Regions from separate parts of the Homo sapiens genome. Here region 1 is linked to region 2. A link means that fine-mapping ties the variant in region 2 to the plasma level of a protein whose gene starts in the linked region. Region 2 holds a variant in brackets. A gene starts in the other region. All regions are shown on their forward strands.

Region 1 (2,500 bases), not on the chromosome of region 2:
GCAGAGAATTGTTTGAACCTGGGAGGCAGAGGTTGTAGTGAGCCGAGATTGCACCACTGCACTCCAGCCTGGGCGACAAAGCGAGACTCTGTATGGAAAGGAAAAGAGAAAAGAAGAGAAGAGAAGAGGTGTTCTGGACCAGTTGGGGGATATGCAAGAATACACAAAAGTGAAGACTCTCTGAGCTGTATCTGTAAGATCAGTGTACCTTACGGTTTCATTGTATTATATGTTACACCTCTATTAAAAGAAAGGGTCTCAGCAGCATAAGACAGGGTGGGGAAAAAAAGAAAAATAGAATAGAGAAAGAGTCCCTGTCTTTTAGGGTAAAATCCTGAAATATTTTCAAATGAAATGATATGATGTCTGGGATTTACTTCAAAATAATAATGAGGGATTTGAAGAGTGTGTGCGTTGGTGGGGGAGGGGGTATACAGAATAAATGAAACTGACAGTGAGTTGAAGCTGGGTAAGGAGTATATGGGAGACTCCCAATATTACTTTTTCTCTTTTGGTATATTATCTTGCATGTGGAATTTCCACAGTAAAAAGTAAAAAGAAGAGAGAGAAAAAAGGACCTAGGGTCGCTACACACACATTCCTTTACGCGTTTAAGAGCTCAGCAGGGACTCTCATCCCAGCCCCCAGCGCTAGGGCCCTGGAAGGCTCAGCAGCCCCGCGCAGTGCATGCTGTTCTGATACTTCTGCCCTTTCCAGCCATCTTTGGCCCATCTGTACGGTGAGCTGCCTGCACCAGGTGAGGGGAGAGAGCCTCACAGAGTGAAATGCCTACAGCCTAGGCAGGTCCTTTCCCCCTTTTGTGACCTCTCCTCCCCATGCACACTTCCCATCACCTGCACCTGTCCAGACATCAGACCTGAAGTTAGACAGACCAGTGTAAGGACGAGTGCTGAACAGAGTCCTTCAGGGAGGGGGATAGTGCCCAAGTGACCTATCTCAAGAGAGGTTAGCCCCTCATCCCAAGGGAGACATCCCTGAGCCACAAGGAGTTGGCAGGACTGCTGGAATGAGTTGGGACCTAGACATCAGGAGACCCAGATTGTAGCTGGCTCTGCGGTGGACTGGCTCTGTGATGTGGCCATCACTCATTTATTCCATAAATACCTATTGGGCACATGGTATGTGCCAGACTCTGCTAAGCATGGGGAACACAGACTTGAAGATTCAGCCTGGGCCATGGTGGCACTCACAGCCTGGTGGGAAGCAAACAAGACAGCCAGGTACAGAGGGCAGTCTTCACGGGGACTGTGCAACCTAGGGCAGAGGTTGCCTTCCAGAGCCTCAGTGAAGCCTCAAGGACAGGTGGGAGTTAGGAAGACGGAAACTTGGGGACCAGAGAACCACGTGTAAAAGGGGGCAGCTGCAAGTAACTCCACGGGTGGGTGGGGTGTTGGGTTGAGGGAGATGGGAGGATGAAACAGGGCAGGAACGAGACCAGGCCACCCTGGAATCCCGGTTCCCTTATGTATCACCCTTAGCCTCCCTCTCCATGCTTAAGGTGAGGGGGCTGGACTGCGTGGGCTCTCAGCTTTCTCCAGTTCTAAGGGGTTTGAAGGTTCATGGGCAAAGAAGCCAGAGCAGAGGGACTGAGTGCCCAGGTCCAGCCTGCTGGCCCCAGGACTCCCCTCCGCATATCCTCCCCCTCTCTTTGGGAGGGAGGTTCCCTGAGGACAGGGAGCAGGGCAAGCTGCACAGCTCTCAAGGGTCTCCTAGGTGACCTGTGCCCACTCCTGTGCGGATTGGGCTGGGTTGGTAGCGTGGGGGGCTGGCTGATTTGCTAGTCCCTTGTAATTTGTCTGAAAAACTCCCACAGTAGGGCAGGACAACGGGGGAGGAACCCGGGCATCTGCCAGCCGGTTCTCCTCGGTCTCAGAGCTGCTTCTGCGGCCTTGCAGTCCCCGCGCCCTGCCCTCTCCATGACTGCCCGTCCTGGGCCCCTCGCTTTCCAGATCCCGCACCCAGCTGTCCCTTGCGCTCTCTGGAACTCCCTCTGCTCTCCCTGCGAGGCTTGTCCAAGGGCTGACCCCGGGCCCGCCGCCCTTCCCTCGGCTGGGCCAGGGCTGTCCGCAGTCCGCTCTCCCGATCGGGCTTCCGAAGAAGGGAGGAGGCCGGTTCCGGCCCCGCGGCCCTCACGTGCTTTCCCGGCCGCCCCTCCCGCCCCGCATCGAGGCAGACAAGCCTGTTCCTCTTCCCTGGGCTGCGATTGCGACAGGCCGGCCTGGCTCCCAGCGCTCCCTGTCCCCGCCCCGCGGCCAGCTCGCTCCACTCCCACTTCCTGAGCTCCGCCATGGGAGCCCTGGAGGCCCGGCCTGGCCGCTCCCGGCCCTGGGGTGCACATCGGCCCTGAGTCCCGTCCCAGGCTCTGGGCTCGGGCAGCCGCCGCCACCGCTGCCCAGGACGTCGGGCCTCCTGCCTTCCTCCCAGGCCCCCACGTTGCTGGCCGCCTGGCCGAGTGGCCGCCATGCTCCTGCCTTGGGCC
Region 2 (2,500 bases):
TTTTCTCTTGCATGATACGCAGAATGAATTATTTTTTGGTTACCCAAAGGCAATCTAAAAATTACTTGGAGCTGAGCAGGGCGCGCAGTTCAGAGCCCCAGCAGGCCGCCCTGCTGGTCAGCGGGACACACAGGGTTAGCGCGGCGGGGTGTGGGCAGCCCCTGTGGCTCGAGAGCCTGTCACTTAACTGGTGGATCCGTTATTTCCCAGAATGGTTAAATTCCCCTCGGGGAGAGCTTGGGTGAAACAAGAGGCCCAAAATATGTAACTCTTGATGGATGGGATCCTCCTGGAATCAGCATTTCAGGCTGTTCTGTTTCCCGGCAACTCCTGTGACTTCCTCAAGGCGGTGCCCAGCCTGGCCCTCCCTCGCGGGGGCCCAGGACGCACTCCCTGCCTGTGCCTCTTACCACGAGCCGGGTGCTGTCCCTCCAGCTCCTCCTGAGCGAGGCCGTGCACTAACAGACTCGATCTCCCTTCACGCCTGTAATCGTCCTTAGAGACTGACTTGTGCCACAGCTGCGGGAGACAGCGCTGCTGCAGGGCTTGGCTGAGGTGGCCGCGAGCGGAGCTGCACGCGCGCTCCTGGGGGGCGTGGTTGGGATCGGCTTCTGGGAGCCCCTCCAGCAGCGCTGTCTCTGCCGGCATGTGAGTGAAGGTGCTTCTCTTACCGTGTGCCC[G/C]TCGAGGTAAACCTGTAACTGGAATGTGTGTGGAGTGTGACTGATAGAACACTACCTGATTCTTATGTATTTACTGACCTGTGTTTTTTTGCTACTTTTTTTCTTTTCTCCCCTTCCCCTTTCCCTATTTTTTTTCTTGCCCTGATCCGGAATTTCTTTGCCAACTGACTGCACGGTACTTCTGCTTCCTGTTGTTGCTTGAAACAAAACAAAAACATAAACAAATAAAAAACAAAAATTCCCCCTCAAACCCTGCTCTCCGGAAACCAACCTGCCCTTGAATATTAACATCCTGACAACTTCATCATCCATCAACCACTGCACGCCTGCGGGGACTGTCTTCCTCGTGTGGACGATTGGCAACTCGCCCCCCTTGACCTCTCCCTCTCCCCTGTCCCTCCGCTGCCTTGCTCTGCTGTCTCTAAAGAGAGTCACACCCCAAAGCCTCTTTATTCTTTTCGGTATGTTATCGTTCACACTTTTATTACCTTGTTTTCATTAATTGAGATGATTTTGATGCCCTGAGACGTATTATGAGTTTGCGGTTTGGCACTCTGATGCTCCGTGGCATCCGCCTCGTTTTATGGTTTGCTTTCGGTTTGCGAATTTTATTTGGTCCCGTAGATACGTACGCATGGTTTATCGCCCTGCATGCTTTTCAGAGTTAGACCTGTCGGTGGCATATGCCACCGTGGCCACCCGCTGGCAGCTTACCTGTCCTGGATGCTATGACTTTGCTGAACGGAGCTGCTCCTGTTAGCGCGCCCTGTGGCTGCGAGACGCAGCTCCGCAGTGGCCGATAAAGCAAACCCGGCCGGGCTGAGCCGGGCCTTGTGGGGGTGCGCGGGGCCGGGGCTGACGGGGAGATGGGCGGGGCAGGCAGCAGGAGACTCAGGCCCCATCCCTGGGCTTTTGAAGGCGTCTACGGTGACGTGCAGCGCGTGAAGATCCTGTTCAATAAGAAGGAGAACGCCCTAGTGCAGATGGCGGACGGCAACCAGGCCCAGCTGGGTAAGAGGCCGGGGCGGCCCCGGGGTGGAGGGGGCAGGGGCGGGGGCTGCGTTCCCTCTCGGGCGCCTGGTCACGCGGGTGCTGCTCCCCCAGCCATGAGCCACCTGAACGGGCACAAGCTGCACGGGAAGCCCATCCGCATCACGCTCTCGAAGCACCAGAACGTGCAGCTGCCCCGCGAGGGCCAGGAGGACCAGGGCCTGACCAAGGACTACGGCAACTCACCCCTGCACCGCTTCAAGAAGCCGGGCTCCAAGAACTTCCAGAACATATTCCCGCCCTCGGCCACGCTGCACCTCTCCAACATCCCGTGAGTGCTGGGCCGGGGGGCTCATGGGGCCGGGGGCGGGCAAGGGCTCTGCTTGGCTGTCCTACCGCGTCGGTGTGTGGACTTCTGGCGTTTCCAGAGTGCAGGTCGGGCACCTCTTACCCCAAACCTGAAGTACTGCAAGGCCTGGAGCTTGAGCCGAGGGCTGCTCAAGGGAGGGGGTCGTTGGACACTTTGGAGGTTTTGGCTCAGGGGATGCTCCCTGTGAGAATGTATAATGCACACATTTATTTATTTATATTTTTTGAGGCGAAGTCTTGCTTTGTCACCCAGGCTGGAGTACAGTGGAACGATCTCGGTTCACTGCAACCTCCGCCTCTTGGGTTCAAGTGATTGTGCCACCTCAGCTTCCCGAGTAGCTGGGACTGTAGGCACCCACAACCACACCTGGCTAATTTTTGTATTTTTAGTAGAGACGGGGTTTCACCATATTGGCCAGGCTGATCTTGATCTCCTGACCTTGTGATCCGCCTGCTTCGGC

Which allele goes with the higher level. Alleles are on the strand shown, and positions count from the first base shown. The strength of an association depends on the size of the effect and on how common the allele is.
As copies of G replace C in region 2, the plasma level of the protein whose gene starts at base 2,286 in region 1 goes down (weak association).

The links. PIP is the chance, under the fine-mapping model, that this variant and not a neighbour inherited with it causes the effect. Protein levels are from antibody-based Olink assays in UK Biobank. Linkage for the fine-mapping came from a reference panel and not from the study's own genotypes, which makes the PIPs less certain.
Region 1: it holds the start of LTBR, and the variant in region 2 is fine-mapped to the plasma level of the LTBR protein (UK Biobank, PIP 0.99).

Annotation. Positions count from the first base shown.
Region 1 is chr12:6,381,877-6,384,376 of GRCh38, forward strand. It overlaps LTBR (lymphotoxin beta receptor), which reads left to right and starts at 2,286. Exons shown (of 10, transcript NM_002342.3): 1 at 2,286-2,500. The coding sequence starts at 2,483. RefSeq lists an enhancer at 1,339-2,204.
Region 2 is chr19:806,762-809,261 of GRCh38, forward strand. PTBP1 (polypyrimidine tract binding protein 1) reads left to right here. Exons shown (of 15, transcript NM_002819.5): 11 at 1,108-1,141; 12 at 1,599-1,691; 13 at 1,785-2,001. Among named protein-coding and RNA genes, the nearest start is that of MIR4745, 3.1 kb to the left of the region's middle. The variant G/C (reference allele first, on the strand shown) is at 681.